Homo sapiens: one gene and its partner. The protein of the gene in region 1 interacts with the protein of each later gene in a biochemical or structural test. Each region holds a gene or a part of one and is shown in the gene's direction. Other genes may lie near its edges.

Region 1 (3,749 bases):
TGTCGCCCAGGCTGGAGTGCAGTGGCGTGATCTCGGTTCACTGCAACCTCTGCCTCCCGGGTTCAAGTAATTCTCCTGCCTCAGCCTCCCGAGTAGCTGGGACTACAGGCGCATGCTACCATGCTGGGCTAATTTTTTGTATCTTAGTAGAGACCGGGTTTCACCATGTTGCCCAGGCTGGTCTCGAACTCCTGAGCTCAGGCAATCCGCCTGCCTCGGCCTCCCAAAGTGCTGGGATTATAGGCGTGAGCCACTGCGCCTGGCCAAATGTTTTTTTGAGCCAGCCTTACCATCTTACTGGTTCCCTCATTAATGAGTGAGTTGAATAAAATCTTGGGTATGTGTTAATTCTATATTTGTATGAAAGTCAAGTTTTTTAAAGTTTTCTAAATTATACTTTAAGAATATACTAAATTACACAGCTAATAATTTCAACAATTTCCTCACAGCAGCAAGAGTAATCTTCTTGCACCCGTTAAGAAATTGAATTGGTGTGGGATGGGTCTAGGAAAGAAGTTTAAAATAGGGATTAGTTTGTAAGCGATTGAAATTATCCTAACTAGTTTCAAAGTTCATGTTCCTGGGGAGGGCATGGAGGAGATAGAACATTGAGTAACATTTTCGATGCTTTATAGCCACTCCCTAATTCCATTTTTCACAAAAACCTGTGGAATTTCGTAGTTATTTCTCCATTTTATAGCTGAGGAATTTAAGGCTCAGAGATGTTAAATAACATCTTCAGAGTGGTGGACCCCACATTTGAACCCAAAACATCCCCCTTCCTGTCTTCATTCTGGAGCTTCTTTTACCAGGTGAATGGTGTGACAGCAGACTGGCACACTCCACTGTTTAATGCTTGTGTCAGCGGCAGCTGGGATTGTGTGAATTTGCTTCTGCAGCACGGAGCCAGCGTTCAACCTGAGAGTGATCTGGCATCCCCCATCCATGAAGCTGCTAGGAGAGGTAAATCTGTTGAGAATTTTTTTTTCTACCCACTCCTTCAAGGGACATCTTACTGCTGAAAGAAAGAAAGAAAAGGAGATATATTTTAGAGCAGTAGTTCTCAAAATGGAGTCCCAGGACTGGAAGCATCAGCATGACCTGGCCTGCAAATGCAGATTCTTCGGCCTCACTCCAGCCCCATTGAATCAGTAACTGGGGATGGGGCTCAGCCCTCTGTATTTTGTTTAATAAGCCCTCCAGCTGCTTTCTGGTACACAGTAAGTTTGAGTGCCTCCCTTTTAGAGCATTTTGAATGTTTTTCACTGCTGTATTACTGAAACAGGGCTTGGCACATAGTAGACTATCCATCAATATTTGTGGAATCCGTTGTTATACCCGTGACCTTATAGAAATCAAGTTATTTCATAAAACAAATTATATTCTTCTATTTCAGGGCCTTAAAGAACATTGTCTCAGTGACACTTAAGTTTGCCAAATGAAATAAGCTTTCAATTTTTGAAAGTATTTGATGTTGCATACAGTTTGGGATAATTCTTTTCATTAAAGCCATAATTTTTCTGATAGTCTTAGCTCATAAAATCACAAGTTTTTATTTTCTCCAATATTTAGCATCATCGTAATGACCATACCTTGCCAGAGGGCTTTCTGTTTCTCCAGTGGCTTTCATAGAATGGCTTCCCATTTGACTGGACCAACCCACTCATAATGATCTCCCAAAGCATTAATATTATTTATTGAGAACATCTTAACTCATCATATTCGCTGCATACATAGAACTAAAATACAGCAAGAGAAACGTAGAGGAGCAATGTCAAAAATATGACATCCTGGACCAAGGAAGTGTGATTCAGCTTTCACCTAGTTTTTCAGATTGGGCCCTGCTCATGTTGGATTTGGCAGTTTCTTCTAAGCATTGCCTATACCCGCTGTGGCCTGTTCCTCCCGGGCCTGCCTTTGGAGAGGTTGTAAGTTTCCTTCCCTGTCCCGTGGCCCACACTGTGCCCTTTATTCTTCAGTTCCACCTTCAGGTCCTGTTCCTCCATATCTCTCCCAAGCTCTCACTTCAATTTCTGTACTTAGACAAACTACAAAGCCACAGACAATTGAAAAAGGTGGATAGTTGCTGGTTGGTTACCGTGGCTAGTAAACTCAAATGGAGTTTCACCCGTAGTTGCAGATTGCATCCTATGGTCAAACCATTAACTGATAGCAGTGGTTAAAATCACTCCTGATTTGGCCGGGCCTGGTCTCACGCCTGTAATCCCAGCATTTTGGGAGGCTGAGGCGGGCGGACCACGAGGTCAGGAGATTGAGACCATCCTGGCTAACACGGTGAAACCCCATCTCTACTAAAAATACAAAAAAGTTAGCAGGGTGTGGTGGCGGGCGCCTGTAGTACCAGCTACTCGGAGGCTGAGGCAGGAGAATGGCGTGAACCCAGGAGGCGGAGCTTGCAGTAAGCCGAGATTGCGCCACTGCACTCCAGCCTGGGGGACAGAGCGAGACTCCGTTTCTAAAATAAAATAAAATGAAATAAAATAAAATCACTCCTGATTCTAATTGAAGGAAATAGCTTTTTGGTCCCCTGGATAAGCTGCTGCCAAATTTAATGCAAAATGGGGATGGCAATGTCTTTCTAGCTAAGGGAACTTGTATTGTAACTGTTTTTCTTCCTGCTTTGGGCTGCAGGCCACGTGGAGTGTGTCAACTCTCTTATAGCTTATGGGGGCAACATTGACCATAAGATCAGCCACCTGGGCACTCCACTCTATTTGGCTTGTGAAAACCAACAGAGAGCCTGTGTCAAGAAGCTTCTGGAGTCAGGTAAAGCAAAAAGCAAACCAAAACAAGAAAAGAAAACGAAAAGTAAATTAAATGTATTTTAAACATCTTACTGCTGTAGGAGAGAAATTAGTGTGGGCAATGGAGTTGGACAAGGTCAGGGTTCATATTGACTGTGTTCCCTTGGGGAATTATTTCACACTGTTTGAACTGTAGTTCTCTCATTTGTAACAAGGATGAGGAGGAGGAGGAGGAGGAGGAGGATGATGATGATGATGATGCCTCTTCTCAGGGTGGTCCTCAATGATTATTAGTTTCTCCTCCCTTTCCTCTGTCTCCCTCCATTTGGCCAGTCACATTATTAAGCCCTGCATAACTTGCAAAGCTGTTGGATTAGTGTTGAATCTTCCTATTTGGGACCTTAACCAGTTCTCTTTGATTAGATATTGAACTTGCCCCATTGCAAATATTATATTTTCCTTGAAAAGGCCTATGTACCCTTATTTCTTTTCACCTCCCTGCTGTTGTCCAGCCCCCTTCTCAACACCTGGAACACCATTTCATCACCTCTTTAATTATCTGAGTCCTATTTATTCTTTAAGGCTTCAGTAATCTGTTTCCCAATGAATGTTGTTGCAGTCCTTATTGCCTCCTACTCATCTGGCAGGCATTGCTATGAATTAAGAGATGCAATCTCTGTCTCTCCCCCACTGCCCACCCCACCTCTGCCACTCTGGGCAGATTTTAAGCCTCTAGCCTGGAAAGGGCCATGTTTGATATCCCTCACAAAGTCAGGAACAATACAAGACCAGATCAGTTAACATTTGTTGAGTGGACATAGATTTTCATTTTACCAGAGGGATGGCAGCTCAGGCAAAGCCACATGTTCCCACATGTCACAGTGAAAGCTAGGCTCTGGGCTGGGGTGGGGATTTGTTAAGAGTGTAAGAGTGGAATTGGGTGGGGACAGTCCTAGAAATCCACCTTACTCCTGAAAGGGAGAA
Region 2 (3,749 bases), on another chromosome or scaffold:
GCCCCACAACACAGGTAACATTTTCCACACTACAGCTGCATAACTCTGTTCTCTAATAATTGATGTCTTACCAGAAGAAGAAGGGATGGACCCAAGAGAGAAGTGGACACTTCTAAGAATACCCACAAATGACAAAGGTAGAATAAAAGGACACAAGGAAGGCCTAAGGAGAATGAAGGGAATGAGAGTAATATGGGGGAATTTTCTATGTAAAGGGAATTCTCTTTCCCAAATACTCTCTGTTAAGATTTCCAAGTATCTGTCTTGTGGGTACACCAGGATAGCAGAGGGAAGGGACTAATGCCACGGTGCTACTCCACCTTAACTGACCCTCCACGCTGAAGCCCCTCATCTCTATTTCAACTCTAGCATTCATTCTCCTTGCTACCAGGACAAAGGTCAAATCATACCTGGAGCTGGGAAACAAAGCCCTCTCAAATCTGAATATGTGTTTCACGAGGAGAGAGAGAGCAGCAGAGGGGACCACGAGGAAGGCAGAGATTCCCTGACGACCTCATGCCTTTGTACACCACTCGCCTTTACTCTCTGGATTAAACAGCATTAGGGAGACAAGAGAGGAAACACATGTGGTGTCTGGAGACCTGTGCCTGCCTGTTCCAGTCCCACACCCAGTCATCTCACCACACCCTTCACCTCACTTTACCTTCTCCTCCAGCACAGGAACTAGGAACTACGGAGAGAGAAGCCAAGGGAGAGGAGGAGGAGGAAACTAACGATTCCCTGCCCACCCCCACACCCAGCACCACCAACAGGTGGGCAAGCTTGCCGAGAAAACGCAGAGGGCATCCTGTGAGCAGCAAACACATCTGAGCCTGGAAAAGACGCAGAGAAGTAAAAGATCAAAGGTGAGGTAGGGGACGTGGAGGAAAGTGGGAGAGACAAAAGGAAAACAAAAAGTGGGGGATCATGAGAAGCAGAGGCAGGAAATAACAGGGCTTCAGACTTGGGTGCAGAATGGAGGTGGAGGACACAGCACAGATGGCATAAGAATTAATATTTCCTTGGTTCCTCCCAGGGAGTCCTTTCTCAACTTTGTAAGGCGTGCACAGAGGTGGCAAGGAAGCACCTTGCTCCTCTTCCTGGTTCTAAGGAAAAGGTGACCTTGAGCCAGTGGGTGTCTTTCCCAGTGCCTGCCTCTAACCCTGTGCTTTCTCCATATCCTCCTCTGGTATCTGTGTTTATTCCGCGGTTTCCCCGCGGCTGCCCCCGGGAGACCGAAGAGGTGGCTGGGGCAGGCCGAAAGCAGAGGAAAGGTTGGGCAGTGTCACCCTTGCACACCCACAGGGTAGACGGATCGAGTTTCAGCTTAAACCGAGGGGTGTGGGGGAAGGGTGTTGGGTTCAGCTAGTCCACGTGGGTGCTGTCCTCCACTTGGTGCTGAAATCTGGGCGGCCACATCCCCGGGGCGGGAGGGGGCTACATCCCCGGCTTTAGACGCGCGAGTCTCAGGTCCCGCTAATTACCTGGCGGGTGCTGCCCACCCCTGCCCTCGCGCACCTAGCGCGGTGGCAGGCGGGAAGGCGGGGCCTGGGGGAGCCCCACCCCTGGAGACTGCGGCTGGGGCCTCCCTCTCCTCCGCCCGCCCGCCTGCCACTAGCTCATTGCGCCTCTCCTGCAGTCTGATTGGCACCGGCTCCCATTCCGGCTCCAGCCTCCAATCCGACCCCCATTTCGGCTGCAGCCTCGGACCTAGCTCCGGCCCTCGGTCTATCCGGTTGCATCCTCCCTCCCTGTTCCGGATCTTATCTTGCGCCAGCGCCTACTCCAGGATCCCGTAGCCAGACCTCAAGCCATGGCTGGTCCCTTCTCCCGTCTGCTGTCCGCCCGCCCGGGACTCAGGCTCCTGGCTTTGGCCGGAGCGGGGTCTCTAGCCGCTGGGTTTCTGCTCCGACCGGAACCTGTACGAGCTGCCAGTGAACGACGGAGGCTGTATCCCCCGAGGTAACAGTGCCTGAGGCGCGGGAGGAGGCGGGGGCAGGAGGTGATGGGAACGAAGGTGCGGGTAGAAGTGAGAATCCGGGCAACAGAGAAGGGCTATAATCACGAAGGCCCTGGAGCTGGAGGGCTGTGCAGTCTGCAGACCTCAGTGGGGTGGGGGTGGGGGCCAAAACCATAAAGCAAGAACATTCCTGGGGACCTGCCAAGACCAGCTCTGGCCCTACGAGTTCTAGCTGCACTGGCTGCCCAAATCCCTAATTGTAAAGCCAGGAACTATCCTTTTCGCTCCCCTCCATCTCCTTCCCTCATTTCCTCAATTCCTCTCCTTAGGCTTTTCCCCTCCTCCATCCGTAGTGTTGTGTCATGGGAGGAAAGAACTGAGCAGATCTGAAGAAACTGAGCTGGCCAGCCAGAGGCAACTAGAACTATTAGGAAAGCATAGACTCTGAAAGTCCCTAAAGAGATTACCAAGGTTTACCCTCTTTCTAATTCCCCCTCCTCCCGCGGAGCAAAGCCAGACATGGCCAACTGGACAGCTCCCAGGTAACTGCACTAGGTCTAGGCGTCTGTGCCCTCCCTCCATGGTTACTGGGTACCCCCTCCCCAGCGCTGAGTACCCAGACCTCCGAAAGCACAACAACTGCATGGCCAGTCACCTGACCCCAGCAGTCTATGCACGGCTCTGCGACAAGACCACACCCACTGGTTGGACGCTAGATCAGTGTATCCAGACTGGCGTGGACAACCCTGGCCACCCCTTCATCAAGACTGTGGGCATGGTGGCTGGAGATGAGGAGACCTATGAGGTAGGGGGTCCCCAGAGTCTCCCTGATGATCCAATTCATCTTCCCAGTAATCCCAGCTCCTTTCCCCTAAAGACCTCTCACTTTCCCCCAAGACTCTGAGCCCCCCATACTTAAGTTTTCTGAACCAGTGAAATCAATGCACAATTGAAGTCTGGGGAGGGATTCCCTCTCCTTAACCATCTCTCCCTCTTAACTCCCCTTAGGTATTTGCTGACCTGTTTGACCCTGTGATCCAAGAGCGACACAATGGATATGACCCCCGGACAATGAAGCACACCACGGATCTAGATGCCAGTAAAGTGAGTTCAAATATCCCACTTCTGATTTGCATTGCCTGTGTACAACACTCTGTATCTCCAACCCCTTCACCTTATTTCCTGACTCATGGTCATTATACAGCTGAGCTTTTAATCTTAATGTAAGGAAAGAATCATATCTTAAGGGGCAGCATATATGGAGATGGAAGGATAGATAAGAATGACCATGACCCAAGGTGGGTGGTTTGGGGAAAGGTCTGCAATGCCCCCTTCAATTCCAGTGCTTTCCCAAAGGGCCTCTTCTTCCAATGCATGCAGGAAGAATGCACAAAGAGTCCTCTAATGCCTAAGGAAGGTCTCTCCTTTCCCAGGGGCCCTCAGTTCCCACCGTGTTTCTGTGACTTACATTCATTTCCCTTATCTCCCAGATCCGTTCTGGCTACTTTGATGAGAGGTATGTATTGTCCTCTAGAGTCAGAACTGGCCGAAGCATCCGAGGACTCAGTCTGCCTCCAGCTTGCACTCGAGCAGAGCGACGAGAGGTGGAACGTGTTGTGGTGGATGCACTGAGTGGCCTGAAGGGTGACCTGGCTGGACGTTACTATAGGCTCAGTGAGATGACAGAGGCTGAACAGCAGCAGCTTATTGATGTGAGGGCCTTAAGAGGGTGCTGGTTGGTGGGAGCAGATGGGGAAGGCTGGGCCAGATGAGACATGGGCTCTGAAAG

The links. The genes of interacting proteins can lie anywhere in the genome.
Region 2: of the proteins of ASB9 (region 1) and CKMT1B, one has a biochemical effect on the other in vitro, tested with the Homo sapiens proteins (one study listed by BioGRID).

What each region holds. Positions count from the first base shown.
Region 1 is NC_000023.11:15,249,468-15,253,216, reverse strand, and holds part of ASB9 (ankyrin repeat and SOCS box protein 9), read left to right. Parts: intron 1-812; coding exon 813-963; intron 964-2,652; coding exon 2,653-2,787; intron 2,788-3,749. UniProt on the Homo sapiens protein: Substrate-recognition component of a cullin-5-RING E3 ubiquitin-protein ligase complex (ECS complex, also named CRL5 complex), which mediates the ubiquitination and subsequent proteasomal degradation of target proteins.
Region 2 is NC_000015.10:43,592,406-43,596,154, forward strand, and holds the start of CKMT1B (creatine kinase U-type, mitochondrial precursor), read left to right. Parts: upstream 1-1,621; 5' UTR 1,622-1,813; coding exon 1,814-1,962; intron 1,963-2,289; exon of another isoform or gene 2,290-2,473; coding exon of another isoform or gene 2,474-2,566; coding exon 2,567-2,765; intron 2,766-2,968; coding exon 2,969-3,064; intron 3,065-3,450; coding exon 3,451-3,672; exon of another isoform or gene 3,673-3,673; intron 3,674-3,749. UniProt on the Homo sapiens protein: Reversibly catalyzes the transfer of phosphate between ATP and various phosphogens (e.g. creatine phosphate).